Linked DNA regions of Homo sapiens: regions 2, 3 and 4 are each linked to region 1. The links come from fine-mapping of genetic effects on gene expression. A gene starts in region 1. Each other region holds a variant in brackets. All regions are shown on one strand. Distances are between the middles of the regions.

Region 1 (5,146 bases):
AGGGTGGTAAGTGTGTGTGTGTGTGTGTGGCGGGGGGCAGGATTTGGACTTGTGGAGATAGAAAGTAGGGAGCCGTGGCAGGTCTCTGGGTAGAGAAAGCAGTGGTTATGAAAGGTTAGTCTGACAGTGATTGGGACGGCAGGAGCTTGGAGTTAAGGAGACCAAATAGGAGTGGATTCTAACTATTTAGGTGTAAGAAGGTTCCAGACAAGTGGGCGTCTGTGGGAAAAGAGAGAGAAGATGTTAGAGGGATTTATTTAGAAGGGAAAATCCATTGGGCTTGGTGATGAATTGGATATGGTTATAAAGAAGGTGAAAGAATGAATGACTCTGCATTTACAGAAGGGCAGATGAACGATGTGGTGGGTTGCCATATTGAGACATCCATGTAGAAAGGCTTAGTAGGTGGATGAAGAAATGGACAAAGAGCTCAGGTGAGAGAAGCAGACAGGGGGTAAAATTTGGAGAATCAAAAAGCATGCTCCAGGAAGTGATTAAACTTCCTGATGGTAAAAAAGTAGAAAGAAGTGTAAAAATTCTAGGTGAGCCTTGAACACCCGCTGAATAAATGGAGAGGTATACCATGTTCATAAATGGGACATTTTAATATTATAAAGATATCCACTCTTCCTAAATTTAACTATATATGTCATTAATGTGTTTCCTGAGGTTAGATACATTGATTCCAGAATTCATATGGAAGTGTAAATGTTCCAGAATAGTCAAAGCAACTTTGGACTAGGACTACAGGTGCACACCACCATGCATGGCAAATTTTTTCTGTAATTTTCATAGAGACGGGGGTCTCCCTATGTTGCCAGGCTAATCTTGAACTCCTGGGCTCAAAGGATCCATCTGCCTCGGCCTCTCAGAGTGGTGGGATTACAGGTGTGTGCCACTGCGCCTGGCCAACAGGCACCAAACCTGACTCATGTTTGTGTCGTCCCAGGCCAGGCACTGTAGCTTGTGTGAAAATTGTCAGAATCGAAATGGAGCCGCTAATGTTAAGAAAACCCTGACAAACAGAGCCGGGGAAGGCCATGAAGAGAGGGTTCTTGCGCGTGCATGCCTGATAACAAAAAGGACTCTCTGGAAAAACCGCAACCTTGCACAAAGGCCACTGCAATCTCCCACAAAAAACTAGTCCTGCAAGGACATGGCCCAGCCACTGGCTGTCCTACTTTGAACTGGCATCGCCTTCGTTATGGATCTTTGTAGCCACAGATAATTATTTTCAAACAATTGTGCAATCCGCCTCATTTTTTTTAAAGCCTTTGCTTTCCTTGCCTCTCTGAATATGCACAAGTTTACCATGGCATGCATATTTCTACTGCAAAGCTCTATTGCAAAATAAATATCTGTTTCTTTTAGAGATCCTCTCTGTTATTTAGGTTGTCACTTGCATGCAACAGGCATTGAATAAATGCTGAATTGACTTAAATTTGTTCTGAGGATGAGGCAGTGCTGGCTGAGAAGGAGCCGGGGTCTCCTGGTGCGCTTTCCACGCCCCAGAAGGTCCGCTTCCACCTCAGCCCCACACTGCTCGGTCTCAGCAACCTGACATGCCAGGGCTGAGCAGGTACGAAATACCTTGGCATTCCTGCCTTGTCGGAGTCTCAGGGCACCTACGAAGGAGGCAACGGGCCTATTTCCCTTTACAGGACACCTTCAGGACACGGGTTTTAACCTGCTCAGGGTCTCATCGCCTTTCCCAGCCAGGCCAGCGGCCAGAGTGACACTGTCCCCCAGGGTTTAACTTAGAGTCCATTCTACCTCTCATTTTCTCTAAAAAACCCCAACCAACCAACTAACCAAATTCTACACGCTGCATATTTTAAAAGCATTTCAAGGTTTATCCTTTAAAACGGAAGGAGGACCTGGGAGGCCGAAGCGGGTGGATCACGAGGTCAGGAGTTCGAGACCAGCCTGGCCAACATGGTGAAACCCCGTGTCTACTAAAAATACAAAAATTAGCCGGGCATGGTGGCACATACCTGTAATCCCGCCTACTCGGGAGGCTGAGGCAGGAGAATCGCTTGAAACCGGAAGGCGGAGGTTGCAGTGAGCCGAGATCGCGCACTGCTCTCCAGCTTGGGCAACAACAGCAAAACTCCGTGTCAAAAATAAAAAAAAAAAAAAAAAAAGAAGGAGGAAATATTTCTCAAGTAGCGACTGCAACTTCCATAGTCAAATTTTCATTCCAAGCTATAAATGGAGATGACTGTCCACTTTTCAGGACAAAAAGCTTCTTGCAAAAGTAGAAGAGCAAAAGCAAAATCCTCCACTAGAAAGCGCCCCCATCTCTAATCTGTAACAGTGAGAGCCTCAGGACGAGTTCCGCAGACGCTCATTTAAAGCAAACTTTTTCAATGACCTTGAGGGTGGCTGTACTTACACGCGGAGAAGCAAATCGACCGCAGCTGGAAAGGCGCTGGGTCGAGCGTGAGAGGAACACGGGTTTTACCTAAGGGAGAGTGGAAGAGAGAAGGGGGTTCCCCAAGGGCCCCGGCCCCTTCGCCTCGTTCGGGCCCCGCGGCCAAGCTCCTCGCACCGCAGCCCCGGCTGTGCAGAAGCGGAGGGGCGGAAGGTGCTCTCAGAACTTTCATTTTCCACCCTGCAGCAGTCCCGAGCCTCGGCTGGAGAACTCGGATGCTTGCGAAACGGCGAGGTCCAGCAGGGGCGGGACGGGGGCGGTGGGCGGAGGAGGATAGGGCGGGGCCGCGGCGGTGAAAGGGCCCGGGGGCGGGGGCGGGGGCGGGGCGAGGCGAGGCCGCCGCGGTCCGGGCCCCCGACGTGGGCTCCGTGCTCTGCACCCAGCTCCTTCCCGGGCGCGCACACGCGCTTCCTCTCTTGAGCTCCCGGGCGTCCGGAGGCGAAGGTCCCGGAGCGTTCACGAGAATCCGGGTCCCGGCGAGTCCGGGGTCCGCTCCTCCAGCTGCGCCCAGGGCGCACGAGCCGGCCAGCCTCGGGGAGAGGGCGCGGGGGCGCTGGGGGTTCTTACGGGAAGATGAGGAAGCCCGACAGCAAGATCGTGCTCCTGGGGGACATGAACGTGGGGAAGACGTCGCTGCTGCAGCGGTATATGGAGCGGCGCTTCCCGGACACGGTCAGCACGGTGGGCGGCGCCTTCTACCTGAAGCAGTGGCGCTCCTACAACATCTCCATCTGGGACACCGCAGGTGAGGCCGGCGCCGCATGAGCCACACCGCCCTGGGGCTCCGCCGGGGACGGGGGGCGCGGGGCTTCCAGCAGGGCACCCGGCCGCGCACAGGGTCCCGGCCTCGGACAGCAAATGCCTCCTTCTCGGGGTTTCCCACTCGTCCTCCCTTGCTGGTTGGGCTGAGCGCTGCCTCTCAGCCACTCAGTGACCTCAGGGACAACCCAAGTTGCAGAGAACCCGCTGGTCATTTGTGTACCTAAGCTGCCTTTGCTCCCGAGCCCCGCGTTCCTGCTCTGCCGCCCTGGGAACCAGAGACGCTCCTCTGTGGCTGCTTTGTTAGGTATTTTCAGTTTTCACGTACCCGTAGGAACATGATATCCTTTGAGATTCACTTGAGGGGTGAGCAGAGCTGGTGTTATTAGCCCCTTTCTAAGAAAAAGTAAAATGAGGCACAGAGTGTTCCCCCCTGTTGGGTTTAGTCAGGAGAGAGGAAATAAAACTGGAGCCTCCGGACCTCTTAGCCCGGAGCATATCTGCCTTTTACAGTTAATCTTCTGCTTGATCTTGGCTCAGATACGTCATATGGGTTTGGGTTGGAGTGACTTCCGGTGGAAGCATTTTTAAGATAGGTAATGAGTTATTTTTATTGTGTAGTATTTGTGACTTTTCAAAAGTACAACTTAGAGGATCTCAATTCAGGCTTTCTGTTTAACTTTGGAAAATAACACTGGTGATTGTAGCATTGCAATGGAATATATTTCCTTCTCCTTACAAAAGAATAAGATATTGTAAGTGAATGAAGAAACTGGAAATAGTGTGACACATTTTCAATGAGTGTGAGTTTTTAGAAGCCTGAAACTCTGAAAGTTCTGACTTCTTTTATGTTAGCATCTTAAAAAGTCATATACCCAAAGGCCCCGTCCAGAATTCTTAAATTGCCATCTTGGGTGTATCAGTATGCTGAATAAACAAGATGATAATGAATTCTCTCTTTAAAACTGAATTAACGAAGCTCACAGAGGTACTTCCAGTTCTCCCCCTCCCTTTTGCCTTCTTTGATGCTTTTTTATTATTATCCCAGTTAACATCGTGACTAATTTATTGGCAATCATCTTGTGAAAACAATGTCCCCCAGGTAAAGAGGTGCATTTCCCTGATCTTTGCTCCAACTCTGTCTTCTGCCTCAGGCTGCAGGATGAGGTTTACTGAGCTGACTCCCTCACACTGAGCATTTGGTAACGATGGAACACACGCTCTAGAAGTCAAATCGAACCCAATTCACGAACCCAATTTGCTTCTGTACAAAGTCAAATTGAACCCAATTTGGTTTTGTACAAAGCTTTGCCCCTCTGCTGCTTTTGCTGGTTGGCTGGGATTTACTGCTGCCCTTGGTTTACAAGTAGCAAGGTTAATGCAGGAGTGTTATTGGGGGACCCTAACCGAAACCCCTGTAGTGGCCACCGTTGGAGGCAGACTCTTAACACACGGTGTGTTTCTGGAACAAGAGCTGCCCTGCAGTGCTGGAACGGCCCCTGCATCGGAGGGAATGAAGCAGCAGTTTCGTTTCCACTGGCCTCTTGCTTCTTCAGCACCAAGGACGTGATGCAGCCGGAATCCTGATCACCAGAGATTTTGCAGTTGTGCTGATGTGACGCCCCAGATGTCTTGAAGCGTTACTGGGGGGCAGCAGCTCATTTCCTGGCATCCGAGGCTGCTGCTGCTTGTTCGAAAGATCCTAAGGGTGAATTACTAGAGCTCCTCAGAACAGAGAGTGGCCAGGCCCCTTCTCCACATTCCTGACTTCCTGTGTACACACTCAGGCGGCCCTTGCCCAGAGTTGGCAGGGACACAGGGCACCCTTGCCTGCCTCCTCGGTGGCCTGTGGCCTGACCGGGTACTTGAAGGGAAAAGAGAGGTAGGAACAGATACCTTTTCTATAATTGTTGGAAATTCAGAATTTAACATTTAGGGGACCCTGTTCTTTTC
Region 2 (5,146 bases), 400 kb after region 1:
TTATACACACACATATGAATATGAGTTTCTTACCTCCCTTCAATGCATATCAAAACCTATGACATTTTTAAAGGGACCTAAAAAAAATCCAGAAGAAAACCCAGGAAAAGCTAGAGGAACACATAACAACACATCTGTGTTCAGTTAGAAAAACATGGGCTCAAAGAACCAGATCATTACCTTTCCCCCTCCTGCCTCCCGCTCCAGATGGGGGTGGCATGTAGCAATCTGGAATGGTAAAAATCGGTGCTCTCCATCCATGCCCCCAGGAGCGCTGCCTGATTGGCACTGTCTGTACAATTCTCTGTTATTTCCTGAAACCCTAACATAGTCTTCTGCTTATTTGAGTGAAACATCTCCTATTTGAAGAGCTACTGATAAGGAGTGGGTGGGAAGTAAAGGAGAATGAAAACATTTTAAAGTTGAAAGCATCAAAGAAAATTTAATGATACTTAAGAATAAGCTAGCCAGGCTCACTGGGTCACACCTATGTAATGCCGGCTTTTTGGGAGGCTGAGGTGGGAGGATCACTTGAGCCCAGGAGTTCAAGACCAGCCTGGGCAACATAGGGAGAGTCTGTCTCTACAAAATAATAATGATAAAATTAGCCAGGTGTGGTAGTGCATACCTGTAGTCCCAGCTACTCGAGAGGCTGAGGTAGGAGAATCGCTTGAGCCCGGGAGGTCGAGGCTGCAGTGAGCGGTGGTCACACCACTGCACTCCAGCCTGGGTGACAGAGCGAGACCCTGTCTCAAAAAAAAAAAAAAAAAAAAAAGAGAGAGAGAAAGAAAGAAGAAGAACAAGCTATGTACATGAAAACAAAAAAACTATCCATGTTGGTATATCTGTTGCCTAAAAATTGAGACCCCAGTATATGGCTGAGAGGGAAAGTTATCCAGTCTCTCATTCCCTCCACATCACCTGCCTTTTCCAAACCAATCTGCCAAACAGCAAGAAACCAGGGAGAACTCAGAACGAGGTGCCCAAACACACACCCCCTTATGAATATCCAGCTGCTTCTGCAAAGTCTGTACTCGACTTTGTGGGAAGCAACTCCTGGCTGTCCGAGAAAACGTTCTCATCTGCAGTGAGACTTTATGCTTGGCTCCTTGAACACTGAAAAGGACATTTAAGAAGGGAAGAAAGAGATACAGCTTACTGCCATACAGGATCATAAATTATTTTTCCTCTGCCTCAGGTGTTACAGGATTGGTGGGTATACCTGGACCTCCAGGTATTCCTGGGTTTGACGGTGCCCCTGGCCAGAAAGGAGAGATGGGACCTGCCGGGCCTACTGGTAGGTTGCGAAACTTCCAACGTAATTACCCTTGACCAGGATCTTTGGGATAGAAGGAGCAGAACCAGGCATGGGGAAACAGCAGAATGAAGTTGGATATATCACTTGACAGATTTCCGAAGAAGTCTGTTTCTTAGAAGAAATAGAATCAAATAGAAGAGCTGAAGAAGTGTTCTTTTTTCTGTGTAGAGACAGATATTGATCAAAGTGTACGTTTCCCAGATGTTGTTGAAAGGCAGCCAATAGTGGTGGCCCATGTGGTTTCCTAAGTGGGATGTGAGCTGCAGCTGTGAAAATTCTATTTCAGCAAAGGACAAGGGAAGTAGAAATGAAAATAATGCCAGCATTGGCCCAAAGGCATGGGATGAACTTGATCTGCTTCCTTAGGAGAAGGCACACTCGAGTGTCCGGTGAAGGCTATGATGCAAAAGGCTGAGGCCACTGACTAATTGAACAAAGAGCTCAGCCCAGCAGACCTGGGCACAGTTTGGCACGTGGCACAGTTAGAGAGGGGACAGAAGCAGGCCTTGCCTGCGAGGTCCCTTACTGCTCCATTTCCATACGCAGGCTTTGGGCTGCTATGGAGGAAGAAACACCTTAAGATGAGGTTGTTTAATAATTCTATGATAGTCCTCCCCAACAGGAGCCCCACGATTCCGTGTGAATGACATGCACAGAGTCACGTCATTCATTTATTTTCATTTATTCATATATCCATTTTCATATGTGTCATATATTCATTGAACTAAATTGTTCAAGCATCTGCTCTGCACCGAGAACTGTGCTTATAAAAATATCTTGAGGTGGCAGGTAAAAAGAAAAAGTTAAGACACCATGAAGGAGGTAGGCTGCTGTATTTAGTTAGCCATGCATTCTTTTTAGACTTTTTTGGTAACATGAATAGGTAGGATACTTTGTGGAAATATAAAATATTAAAAACTCTTTGGAGAAAATGATTTTGAAAGCCTTTAGGGGAGCGTGTTTGTAATTAGGGAAACTAATTTGTCTCCTATCTTCCAGGTCCAAGAGGATTTCCAGGTCCACCAGGCCCCGATGGGTTGCCAGGATCCATGGGGCCCCCAGGCACCCCATCTGTTGATCACGGCTTCCTTGTGACCAGGCATAGTCAAACAATAGATGACCCACAGTGTCCTTCTGGGACCAAAATTCTTTACCACGGGTACTCTTTGCTCTACGTGCAAGGCAATGAACGGGCCCATGGCCAGGACTTGGGTAAGAAGCCTGCAGATCCATGCATTCATTCAGTGTAGGTGTGTTGAGTGCCTTCGGTGTGCAGTGCTGGACTCGCCTCTGCTGCTGCAGTGAGGGCAGTAGCGAGTGAAACACTGCGCCATGAGGGCGGTAGCCAGTGAAAAAGCAGCCCGGCCCCATTTCCCTCCATTGATTACAAATAATCGGTTCAACAGCTGCTGTATTACTAATGGCAAGCCAAGAAATGTGGAGACTGA[A/G]TCTTCGAAAATCTTTAAATTAATAAAACTTTAGATCTCATCTTCAAATTATCAAGTAGGATCAAGATTCCTGGAGTGCACTTAACAATTTGCATTGATGCGGCTTAACCATTGCTCTTTGTAAAAAAAAAGGTCCATGTTATCCTGTCTGAAATTCTCTACAGCTGCTGAGCTCTGCTCCTCTAGTTTAGATCAGCAGAAAGCTACATATCTGTCCTCATTATCTTAATCTGACCCAGATATCCTCCACCAAACTGTGTTTTAATTTTCTCTGCCTTTAACTTTTATCAGGGTTAGAATCAGCAAGCTGCTATAGAAAGAGCATCTGCATTTTCTGCAAAACTGTTGTGAAAGACATTGCCCAATTTGTTACTATCCATCGTATAACGAACCATGTGTTAAGTTCCTTCTAGAATTCAGCTTTAGGAAAAGGTTTCTTTGTGCTGGTAAACTGGTTTTGTTTCCTTTCATCAAAAATGTCCTACATAATCCTTTATACATTTCCATTTCAGTGATTATGTTGATTATATGTTTTTGCTTGTTGTCCAGCTGAAATCCACTTTACATAGAGATAGATTGTGAATTATAAAGGAAACATCTCACATTGTCTTCTTCCTTGTCTAGGCACGGCCGGCAGCTGCCTGCGCAAGTTCAGCACAATGCCCTTCCTGTTCTGCAATATTAACAACGTGTGCAACTTTGCATCACGAAATGACTACTCGTACTGGCTGTCCACCCCTGAGCCCATGCCCATGTCAATGGCACCCATCACGGGGGAAAACATAAGACCATTTATTAGTAGGTGAGTCGAGCATCTGTAGGAACAAATGCAAAATTGAAGAGGAAAAGTCTCTAGTCTGGACAAGCATATGTTTTCTATTTTTCTCCAAAACGTTGAATCCATTGCCATTTAGCTTATTATTTGTGATATTCGAGTTTTGTAATGGAAATCTACCATAAAAATTATTTGACATAAAAGTCAGTTGGCTGGGCACAGTGGCTCATGCCCGTAATCCCAACACTTTGGGAAGCCGAGGCGAGAGGGTTGCTTGAGCTCAGGAGTTCAAGACCAGCCTGGGCAAGATGACGAGACTTCATCTCCACAAAAAATACAAAAGTTAGCTGGGCGTGGTGGTGTGAGCCTGTGGTCCCAGCTACGAGGGAGGCTGAGGTGGGAGGATCACTTAAGCCTGGGATGTTGAGGCTGTAGTGAACTGAGACCACACCACTGCACTCCTGCCTGAGCAACAGAGTGAGAACCTGTCTCAAAAAGAAAAAAGAGTCAGCTATTCTCTTTTAAAATTGTGGTGCAAAACCATGGTGAGATAATGCCAGGCTTGCAGAGATAATTTATATTTTGCCTGACTCACTGTGGTGGTTGCCTTTCCTCCTGTGAGCAAGGTGATGCCACTCGATTCTTCAGCAAGCGTTGGAACAGTGTTGCTCAATCTTTCTTTTTAAAAAGTAACAGCTTCCCCAAGGAGCCTTTTAAGACATTGTTTTCTGAATCATCCCTGCCCCTATGAATTTTTTTTTTTTTTTTTGAGACGGAGTCTCGCTCTGTCACCCAGGCCGGACTGCGGACTGCAGTGGCGCAATCTCGGCTCACTGCAAGCTCCGCTTCCCGGGGTTCACGCCATTCTCCTGCCTCAGCCTCCCGAGTAGCTGGGACTACAGGCGCCCGCCACCGCGCCCGGCTAATTTTTTGTATTTTTAGTAGAGACGGGGTTTCACCTTGTTAGCCAGGATGGTCTCGATCTCCTGACCTCATGATCCACCCGCCTCGGCCTCCCAAAGTGCTGGGATTACAGGCGTGAGCCACCGCGCCCGGCCCCCTATGAATTTTTTTAAAAGTTATTTTTAATTTTGGTAAAATGGACATAACATAACATTTACCATCTTAATAATTTTTCAGTGCACAGTGTAGTGGCATTAAGTACATTTGCAGTGTTGTTTTACCATCACCGCCATCCGTCTCCTGAACTTTTTTATTTTCCCAAACTCAAACTCTGTCCCTGTTAAACACTGACTCCACATCCCTCCTGCCAGCCTCTGGTGACCCCCCATTCTACTTTCTGTCCCTGTGAATTTGACCCCCGTAGACACCTCATGTAAGTGGAATCATACAGTATTTTTCCTTTTGTCACTGGCCTGTTTCACTCAGCATAATGTCCTCAGGGTTCATCTATATTATAGCATGTGATAGGATTTCTTTCCTACTTAGGGCCAAATAATATTTCATTGTGCATAGGTGCCACGTTTTGTTTCTCCATTCCTCTGTCACTGGACACTTAGGTTTTGTCCACACCTCAGCTATTGTGAACAATGCTGCTATGAACATGGGTGTGAAAATATTTCTTTGAGAGCCTGCTTTTAATTG
Region 3 (5,146 bases), 28 kb after region 1:
ATCCTGGAGGTAGGGTCTGAACTGGCGTCGGCAGGGCCGTGCACCTCAGGAGGCTCCAGGGAGAGGCTGTTCCCGCCACTGTCCAGCTCCTGACTGGTGCTGGCCGTCCTTGCCTGCGGAGCTGTGGCTCTCATCTCTGCCTCTGTTTCCCCATGGTCTCCTCCCCGGGGGTCTGCCTTCACATCGTCTTTGCCCCTGTGTCTCCGGGTGTCTTCTCTAATAAGGACACCAGTTAGATGTGATTAAGGGTCTGCCGTACTCCATGTGGTCACATTTTAGCTAATCACTTCTGCAGAGACCCTGTTTCCAAATGAGGCCACATTCATGGGTGCCAGAGATGAAGACTTGAATGTATATTTTTGAACCCATAATAATACATTTATGATTCCATTTTTAAACAGAAAGTGCTGTTTCCTGCCCTCTGGTTCACCTTCAAGGAGAGAAATGAAATCCATTTCTGTGTTGGAAGGCCTTGCGCGGCCGGAGCTTTGGGTACTGCTGCTGGGCTGAGAGCATGGTGTGGTCCAGTGGGCGCTCAGAGGCGCTGGGCCAGCCACTGCGTGGAAGGCCTGGGCCCAGCGTGCCGGGTGTGTGCGGTGCTTCACGGCTGCCTGTGAAAAGTTAGTCACTGCACAGGCATTTAATGGAAGGGCCCAAGCTGTGAGGCACTCAGAGCAGGCAGGAGGAGGAGAGGTGGAATCTAGGGAATGGGTTCCAATCTCGCCAGTAGAGTCTCTGAGCCTTGACTTGTAGATCTGCGAAAATGGAAAACAGAGACTTCCCAGAGTGGTTTAAGGATCCATGAAGACGTGACCCACGAAGTGGTTGTATGAATTAGCCTCATGTGTTATTTATTCGTTTCTGTAACTTCACGCCTCCTTCATGCCTGTTCCAAGCAGCCCGTGAGTGTCTGCTGTGGTCCAGGAACTGTACCTGGTGTTCAGGGTGGGTTCGGGTTGGGGGTCTCCGGCTCTGAGCAGAGTCTGCTCTGTGCCATCCAGCATGGTAGCCACTGGCCACACGTGGCTTGGACTTAGAGATGTGGCTAGTTCTAGGTGAGATGTGTGCTTTTCAAAATGAGGAAGAATTCTGAATTTAAATTTCTCACTACATTCTCCATCTCTGCCAGTAAAAGATGTTCCTGGGCTGGGCGTGGTGGCTCAGGCCTGTAATCCCAGCACTTTAGAAGGGCAAAGCGGGGGGATCACTTGAGCTCAGGAGTTTGAGACCAGGCTGGGCAACTTAGTGAGACCTCATCTCTACTAAAAATTAAAAAATTAGCCAGGCGTGGTGGTACACACCTGTAGTCCCACCTGCTTGGGAGGCTGAGGTGGGAGGATCGCTTGAGCCCAGGAGGATGAGGTTGCAGTGAGCCATGATTGAGCCACTGCACTCCAGCCTGGGTGACAGAGCGAGACCCTGTCTCTGTTTCCACAAAAAAATATTGCTGGATATGTCTTCTGCTCTTCGTTTTGGAAATCATATTTTTCCTATTTTACTGTTTAGTTGCTGAACAGCTGGCAGGAGAGGACTTGTGCATTTATGATGAGGTCCAGTTTTGTGGAGTTCACACTCTTTTGAAGCCTGCTAGGAAGCCCCCTGGGGTGCACAGTAGAGGGTGTTCATATTGGATCAGCATTTGGAAAGATAACTGCCCGGGCAAGGAACCCTCAATGAAGAAGTGACCAGTTTGGGTCAAAGTGATCCTTGCAGTTTTCTGAAAAGCCCCTGTCATGCCACTTCCCCTGCCCTGGACATTTGTTTGGCTGAGGGGCAAGGCAGGGGTCGGGGCGTGGTCGGCACCCTTGACCGGCACACTCGTACATCACGGTGGCAGCACCTCTTTGTAGGGGCTCGGCCTCAGGGGACAGCCTGAAAATGGGGGAGCTGTACAGGCCTCTCTGGAGAGCCTCAGCTTTGCAGACAGCCTCCATCCCAGGGAAGCAAGTGAGCAGTCCACGTGAATAAGGCAGCCAGGCTTCCCCAGAGAAACAGACCTGACAGAGGGTG[T/C]GTGAGCTCAGGCAAGGTTGCTTTGTTGCTGTCTGGGGGCTGAATTCCTTCGTGTCTGGAAGAGCTCAGTCTTTACTTCTCAGGCCATCAGCTGATTAGACGAGGCCTACCACATCACAGAGCACTGTCTGCTTTCTCACATCCACTGATGTAAATGCTGATCCCACCTAAAAAACACCTTCCCAGCCATGTCCAGGCTAGTGCAGGACCAAACTGCTGGGCACCGGGGCCCGACCAGATACAGTTCCCCATCACGGTGGGTGGAGGCTGGCAAGCCATTGGCTCTCTGGAGGCTTTGGTGCATGTGGGTTCTGGGGGGAGGGCCTGCCCACTGCGTGGGGCCCTTGCCTGCTAGCTCTCCACTTTCCACGTACTGGTGGGGGCAGGTGTGTCCAGCCAGGCCCTGTGCTGGCTCCAGGCAGCCCAGCTCCATTCATGCACCCAGGGACTCTTGTGGGCCTTCCTTACTGCACTAAAATCAACAAACAATTGAATACAGTGTTGGTTATAGTAGTCAATTATTTATTCTTTTCTAATGCTCCTGAGGGGATGGTTGCTTCCACATCCCATTCTCTCTTTTTGAGATAGGGTCTTGCTCTGCTGCCCGGGCTAGAGTGCAGTGGCAGTATCCCAGCTCACTGCAGCCCAACCTCCTGGGCTTAAGCGATCCTCCTGCCTCAGCCTCCTCAGAGTAGCTGGGACTACAGGCACATACCATCATACCCAGCTCATTTTTAAATTTTTTTTTGTAGAGATAGGGACTCACTGTGTCACCCAGGCTGGTCTCAAACTCAGGGGCTCAAGGGATCCTCCCACATCAGCCTTCTGAAGTGCTAGGATTACAGGTATGAACCACTGTGCCTGGCCTCCACGCACCATTATTTAACCAAGTTCACTATCGGTTTTAAAAAAACAAACCTAGAGGGAATGTAGATCATGCCTGTGGAGATGGTCCCATGACTCTCAACTTTAGCCAAAACTCATCAACTTTACAAAATAGAACTAAAATAACCTTTTGGCTCGTATTTGTGGATGCAACCTGCAAACACTGGAGAAAGCATGTCGTGGTGTTTTTGAACAATCTCTGATGGGAAGTGTGTCACAGCTCCTCTAGGCTGCGCTGCTGCTGGTGCCATTGCTGGAGTTGCTTATTTTGCTCCCATCTCTGGTCTGGGAATATGCACTTTTCCTTTCCTCAGGTTGTCACATCGATGTTTTGTGAGCTCCCTGCCAGGGGGCTGTCCGATCTGGCAAGGCAGAGAACTCATCTTAAAAGTTTCTGTTCTCCGCTGGGCACAGTGGCTCATGCCTGTGACCCCAGCACTTTGGGAGGCCAAGTTGGGAATATAGCATGAACCCAGGAGTTCAAGACCAGCCTGGGTAGCATAGTAAGTCCCCATCTCTACACAAACATAAAAGAAATTAGCTGGGTGTAGTGGTATGCACCTGTGGTCCCAGCTACTCGGGAGGCTGAGTTGGGAGGAACACTTAAGCCCAGAAGATGGAGGCTGCATTGAGCCATGATCGTACCACTGCACTTCAGCCTGGGTGACAGAGCAAGACTCTGTCTCAAAAAAATAATAATTAAATAGGCTGGGCGTGGTGCCTCGCGCCTGTAATCCCAGCATTTTGGGAGTCCAAGGTGGGTGGATCACTTGAGGTCAGGAGTTTGAGACCAGCCTGGCCAACATGGTGAAACCCTGTCCCTACTAATAGTACAAAAATTAGCTGGGCTTGGTGGTGTGTGCCTGTAATCCCAGCTACTAGGGAGGCTTAGGCAGGAGAATTGCTTGAACCCTGGACGTGGAGTTTGCAGTGAGCTGAGATTGCATCACTGCACTCCAGCCTGGGCAACAGAGCAAGACTCTGTCTCAAGAAAAAGTAAATAAATAAATAATGAAAGTTCCTGTTGTCTCAGTGTTTGCATTTCCTGGTAGGGCTCACTTTTCAATGAATTGAAATACCAAGCTTTCTAATTCTTACATTTCAATAGCTGCCCTTTTATTTCCCACTTTCACTGGGTAAATTGCTGATTTTCACTCCTGGTGCACCTGGTATTCACCTGGGGCGCTTTTAAAGCTGATACAAATGCCAGCCCCACTCTTGCCCTGGCAGCTGGGTCAGGGTCTGAGCATCAGTATTTTTTAAGTCTCCCCACCCCATGCTTAAGATGTGAGCCAAGGGTGTCCGTGGCTTCTGATGGCTATCTCAACCCACTCTTATTTAAACCAATAGTGAAAACGACACAACACTTGGGGTAGAAGCCTGGCTGTGTTTGGCTTTGGGAAGGCTGAAGAGTGAAATGGAAAGCACTTGGGCAGTTTTTGGTTCCGCAACAGTGAATCAGGATTACTGTGGGTGCTGACTTCCCTTCCCCTTCTGCCTGAACCCTGGGCCATGTCAGCTCCACTGATCTGGCAACATCCGGAGCACCCCCAGGACCAGGGAGAAGGTCATCATCTGAGAATAAGAAACGTAGAAGATTGGTCCACTGCAAAAGCGCCCAGTCGGCCCCAGGAGGTGGTGTGTAAATGGAGGGATGATGAGACCCGGGACATGGGCAGCCCTGGGACGGTGGCATCCATCCTTAGGTTTGGGAGGAATCTCACGATTTATGGAACAAGCACTTCTATTACAGGGCCTAATGTGCTGGGTGCAGCTCCAGCCAGTTCACCTGTGTGCAGATTCTGCTTTCTCAGCCACCCTTTGGCAGGTGTAACCCACATTTTAGTGACGGGGAAACTGAGGTACCGCATGTCTAAGTGACTTGCCCAAGGTCACACGGTGGGGATTTGAATGTAGTCTGTCTCTAGAGTGGGGGCTGTTTACCAGAACGCTCTGCAGTCCCTGCCCAGCGAATTAGCCGGCACTTCCAGGATAGTTCTCTGCGTAAAATTTGGAGCTCCTGGGAAGGTGGCTGCATTCTGCAAATGCCTGTGCTCTGTGGGATCACAGGGTGGAGGCAGGCTTTTCTCCTGCCCAGCAGCCCACCTCAAAGGGGCCCTAGGCCCCTTCCTCTGCCTCTGGGGGTGGTTAGACCAGACTCCCTGGGGTGCCTGTTGCCAGCGTGCTTCTCAGGGCTCCACCGCTCCTGTGTCTGTTGCCCACCTCCTTCTCCATCTGTGCCTCAGTTCCT
Region 4 (5,146 bases), 41 kb after region 1:
CCTAAGCAGGTGCAGCTGGAGGATGCGGTGGCCCTTTATAAAAAGATCCTCAAGTACAAGATGCTGGATGAGCAGGATGTGCCGGCCGCTGAGCAAATGTGCTTTGAGACCAGCGCCAAGACCGGCTACAATGTGGACCTCCTGTTTGAGACCCTCTTTGACCTGGTGGTGCCAATGATCTTACAGCAGAGAGCTGAGAGGCCGTCACACACAGTGGATATATCCAGTCATAAGCCACCCAAGAGGACCAGATCTGGGTGTTGTGCCTGACTTTCGAGGGCCTCCTGGACTCAGACTGTGCATGTTGGGAAGGGGTCTGACCAGGCAAGCTGTGATCTGAAAGGAGCAAGGAACAGCAAGGAATTATTTTCCAGAATGACACCCGCAGCAGAATGTTGGAGTGGAAATGATGGCTGGCTATGAAGAGGAGGTCAACGTGTGTGGTCTCCTCAGTCTCTGTCAGAGGGGTGGGGAGGTGGGAAACAGGAATCCTCTGCAAAGCCCAATCTGCAGAGTCGAGACCCCTGGTGCTCTCTGCCCCGCTGCCTGGCACTGGTCCTTTGCAGCCAGCCACCAACGGCCCCCTTGCCCTTGCAGAGGCAGAAGCCTGCGTCTGCACCTGCACCTCTGACCGTTTCAGCACCCTGGGTTGTTACCACGTCCTACAACTCTGACATTTCTTGTTCTCAAGCGTTTCTCTTCACTGTGAGTTGTCTTTGGTCCTCCCACTTGGTACTTGTATCTTGATGCTTTATAATCCTGACTCTCGACGTGTTCATTTATACAAAATCAGGAATAACTTTGTTTTTATACTGATTGCAGCAATGTTGGCTACATGTATTATTAAAGAGGATTTTTGGAACAACTTAGGTATTGAGACTGAACTGACTTCATTTGCACCCCCAGTCCCAGGGACTCTCTGTGGGGTAGGGTGGGGGGCGCTGGGGAGATGGCTGTGAACTTGAGATACGTCTCTCTTTGTGCGGAAGCTCTGTGAAATCCTTACCAATTGCAGAATATTTAGATTGGCCCATCTGTCTAGTTTTCTTGATGACTTGAATTCCAATAATAGTAGCAAAGCTTAAAGCTCTGGTTCTGCTGAAGTCTGGGGCATCTGAGCACCCAGGTCTCTGAGTCAGAAACCCCCTTCGGGTCTGCTGCTGCTGGCCGTGGGGTGGCTGCTTTATTGGAAGATGTCAGACAGAGGTGCCAGGAGACAGCAGATTTGTTTTCCCAGAAATGTGACTGAACGAAAGCAGGCTGGGGTCGGGGCTGTTTGTTGGGAGGCAATGTGGGGCAGATGGCACTGGGCAGTGGGTTTCATAAGTGCTGTTTTCTTTCTTTTTTTTTTTTTTTTTTGTGATAGGGTCTTGCTCTGTCACCAGGTTGGAGTGCAGTGGCGTGATCTTAGCTCACTGCAGACTGTACCTCCGGGTTCAAGCAATCCTCCCGACTCAGCCTCCCAACATGCTGGGATTACAGGCATGTGCCACCATGCCCCAATAATTTTTTTTTTTTTGGTAGAGTTGGGGTTTTGCCATGTTGCCCAGGCTGGTCTCAAACCCTTGAACTCAAGCAATCCTCCCTACTCAGCCTCCCAACATGCTGGGATTACAGGGTGCTCTGTTTTCTGGGGAGCTGTTCATAATTTGCTGAAGGCCTGTGCTCTCCGGTTTCTGGGCTGCTGCAGGCCTAACTTCTCCGCTCCTGTGGAGTGAGTGCTTTCAGGCAAGGAAGGGAGCTTGAACCCCAGGAGGAAGCACTGAGGCAACCCCTGCGATTGCAGGTCCTCAGCTCCCCTGAGATGTGGTTTCGGAGTTTAAAACTTCAGTTTCGCAACAGCAGCCCATTGAGAAGTGAACGCAAATCAGCCTGACTCGTGACTTTTTATTGACTTGGTTGAATATACCACTGTAGGGACAGAAGTTATATTTATTTTCTATAATGTGTATCTTTGCTAGTGACCCATCTAGGAAATAGGCTAATCAAAGAGACCTTGGAATCTTTTTTTTTTTTTTTTTTGAGACAGAGTCTCACTCTGTTGCCCAGGCTGGAGTGCAGTAGCACAATCTCAGCTCACTCACTGCAGCCTCGAACTCCTGAACACAAGTGATCCACCCACCTCAGTCACCCGAGTAGCTGGGACTACAGGGGTGTGTCAGTATGCCTAGCTAATTTTTTATTTTTATTTTTTGTAGAGATGAGGTCTTGCTGTGTTTCCCAGGCTGGTCTGGAACTCCTGGGCTCACGCAATCCTCCTGCCTCAGCCTCCCAAAGTGCGGGGATCATAAGCATGAGCTC[T/C]GGCCCTGGCCAGAGTCTTTCTTTGAAGGCTGTGAAGGGAGAGAAAGTATCATATGGCACTGTTTTTGCAGTTGGTGCTTGAAGGCAGGGAGGGCTGTATGAATGCCTGAGGCCCGTTCTTCCTGAACAGTCTTGGATTCGATTTCCCATCTGCTCCGGGCACCCAACAGCTTGTTTCCTCGAGTGGCCGCGTGCTCCGGGGATGGTGCCCATGGGTGGCACATTCTCCATCAACTCTGTTTAAGCATTTCATCCTATATGTGTTGTCCTAAAAATAAGCATCCCTGTGGGCTCCTTTTAAATGAGTTCCTCTGGGCAGTCGGCGCTGCAGTCTCTCCTATGCTAGCAACTTCCAGCTGCCCTTACAAGTGCTTTTGTAAGGGCATGAGGGGCTCATTAATTCAGCACATCTCACTGAGCACTCTCCACGGCCCTTCCTGGAGCTGAGCTATTGGGACAGTTTCAATGACAGTGCCGCCACAGGCCCCCTGGCACCCTGTGTCCTGGGCTGCATTCCAAGTGGACCTTGGATACCAGCCTGGCTCCTCGCTGGGGAGCCTGGTCTTGGGTCCTACTCCCCCACCCTCATCTCATGTGGCCTCTGTTTCCTTCCAGAAACCACGTCAGTTCTTGGAAAGCTTGAAATCCCTCGGTTGGGCAACTCAGCTGTTGGCGCAGATTTCCCCACTGGGTGTGGGTTTGAGCTCGTGACCTCGAGCATCCGTCTTTCCTTTGTACAAAGCGGCCACTCCAGGGAGGAGATGAGCAAGTGACGGTCCAGGGTTCATGGCTGTGTGTGGTCTTGGAGCTCCCTTCTGCACTTTCCAGCTGTCCATGTCCCCATGCAGATGAGAACCCTTTCCTCAATGACACCTCATAACCAGGTATTTCCTAGTGCCCTTAAAGCCTCGTGCCTGGCAGTGGTGTCAGGGAGTCCTGGGGTTGGGTATGTGGTAATCTGGGTGCTGTCAGTCAGAATGTCCCCTTCCCCAGGCTCCCAGGCCTAGTTTCTTAAAGAGTATGACGTTGCCATTTCTGGACCCAACTTCCTGGTTTAAACAGCCCTGCTGTGCCAGGAAAACAACCTCACATGAATGTTCCCAGCACATAGATCACCCCAGCACACGGGTGCCCCCCAGTACATGGGCCCCCCCCAGCACATGGATACCCCCAGCACACGGGCTCCCCCACCAGCACACGGATCTCCCCAGCACACGGGTTCCCTCCCCAGCACACGGGTTCCGCCAGCACATGGGTCCCCCCAGCACCCAGGTTCTCCCCAGCACACGGGTTCCCTCCCCAGCACACGGGTTCTCTCCCCAGCACGTGGATTCCCCCAGTACATGGATACCACCAGCACATGGATCCCCCCAGCACATAGGTCCCCCCAGCACACAGGTTCTCCCCAGCACACGGGTTCCCTCCCCGGCACACGGCTTCCCTCCCCAGCACACGGATCTCCCCAGCACACGGGTCTCCCCAGTACATGGATCCCCCCAGCACGTAGGTCCCTCCAGCACACAGGTCCCTCCAGCACACGGCTCCCCCCCAGCACACGGATCCCCCCAGCACACGGATACCACCAGCACACGGGTTCCCCCTCCCCCAGCACACAGATCTCCCTAGTATACGGGTCCCTCCAGCACACGGGTCCCCCTAGCACACGGATCCCCATAGCACACGGGTGCTCCCAGCACATGGATCCCTCCGGCAGAGGTGAGCTGCTGCTCAAGGCCCATGAGACAGACCCCATGAGACATGGAGATGGTGCCTGTCTTCCAGAGAGAAGGGGCAATGGCTCTGAGCTCGGCCTTCACTCCGTGCTCCTGGGAGACTCTAACCAGGCTGAGTCCCTCCTGAGCAATGACCACAAACCTCTGAAGAAGGAAGAAGAGTGGGACCCGGGCCCCAGAGACCCTGGTGGGAGTGCCGTGGTGTGGCCTCCAGGTGTTTGGAGGATTTCAAAGGCACAGATCCTCCCAGCCCTGGTTGGTGGAGTCCAGGTCGTATCTTCCCTTCTGTGGCCAGGCAGAGTGGCCGGTGCCCTCGTCCTCTTACATGCCCTTATTAGAAGCACAGACTCTTCTCCACAGTGTGCAGGGGTCTTCCATCCTCCCACTTCACAGAGCTGGATCTTTCGAGCCTCATTGTCGAAACAGGACAGAGAGGATGGGTGTGGTGGGTGGACGCACAGCTGAGACCCTGCTCACACAGCTGAGACCCTGCACACACGCACAGCTGAGACCTTGCTCACACAGCTGAGACCCTGCATGCACGCACAGCTGAGACCCTGCACGTGCGCACAGCCGAGACCCTGCATGCATAGCCAAGACCCTGCACGCACAGCAGAGACCCTGCACGCACAGCAGAGACCCTGCACACATGCACAGCTGAGACCCTGCTCACACAGCTGAGACCCTGCATACACAGTCGAGACCCTGCACACACGCACAGCTGAGACCCTGCTCACACAGCTGAGACCCTGCATGCACGCACAGCTGAGACCCTGCACGCACGCACAGCCGAGACCCTGCACGTGTGCACAGCCGAGACCCTGCATGCATAGCCAAGACCCTGCACGCACAGCAGAGACCCTGCACATACATGTGCCGCCTGCACTCAGCCTCCTCTGTGCCTGCTCTGGAAGCTCTTGGGCCCAGTCCTCCCTTGTGGTCCAGGCTGCCTCCTTCAGGGAGAGCTGACGCCTTCAGAGCAAGCGTCCTTGCGTGGTTATGAAGCTCTGTGTCCCTCCCCTTCACTTTGTGTTTGCCTTGAAGCCACTGGCCCAGCCCTCAGGTATCGGATCTGGAGGGCACCTTGCTGGAGGATATGTGGACCCAAGGCC

What was found. PIP is the estimated chance that this variant, and not a neighbour inherited with it, causes the effect.
Region 2: its variant is the best candidate, but not a certain one, in a credible set for the expression of RAB20 in whole blood (TOPMed, PIP 0.67).
Region 3: its variant is the best candidate, but not a certain one, in a credible set for the expression of RAB20 in whole blood (TOPMed, PIP 0.66).
Region 4: its variant is the best candidate, but not a certain one, in a credible set for the expression of RAB20 in whole blood (TOPMed, PIP 0.72).

Annotation. Positions count from the first base shown.
Region 1 is chr13:110,559,381-110,564,526 of GRCh38, reverse strand. RAB20 (RAB20, member RAS oncogene family) reads left to right here and starts at 2,805. Exons shown (of 2, transcript NM_017817.3): 1 at 2,805-3,179. The coding sequence starts at 3,008. RefSeq lists silencers at 2,676-3,125, 3,017-3,206, 3,186-3,245.
Region 2 is chr13:110,159,614-110,164,759 of GRCh38, reverse strand. It overlaps COL4A1 (collagen type IV alpha 1 chain), which reads left to right. Exons shown (of 52, transcript NM_001845.6): 47 at 1,199-1,297; 48 at 2,318-2,530; 49 at 3,391-3,568. Among named protein-coding and RNA genes, the nearest start is that of LINC03082, 33 kb to the right of the region's middle. The variant A/G (reference allele first, on the strand shown) is at 2,767.
Region 3 is chr13:110,531,132-110,536,277 of GRCh38, reverse strand. All of the region lies in intron 1 of RAB20 (RAB20, member RAS oncogene family), which reads left to right. Among named protein-coding and RNA genes, the nearest start is that of COL4A2-AS1, 26 kb to the right of the region's middle. RefSeq lists enhancers at 1,300-2,082, 4,904-5,146. The variant T/C (reference allele first, on the strand shown) is at 2,011.
Region 4 is chr13:110,518,789-110,523,934 of GRCh38, reverse strand. It overlaps RAB20 (RAB20, member RAS oncogene family), which reads left to right. Exons shown (of 2, transcript NM_017817.3): 2 at 1-869. The coding sequence ends at 270. Among named protein-coding and RNA genes, the nearest start is that of COL4A2-AS1, 13 kb to the right of the region's middle. RefSeq lists an enhancer at 2,000-2,079. The variant T/C (reference allele first, on the strand shown) is at 2,302.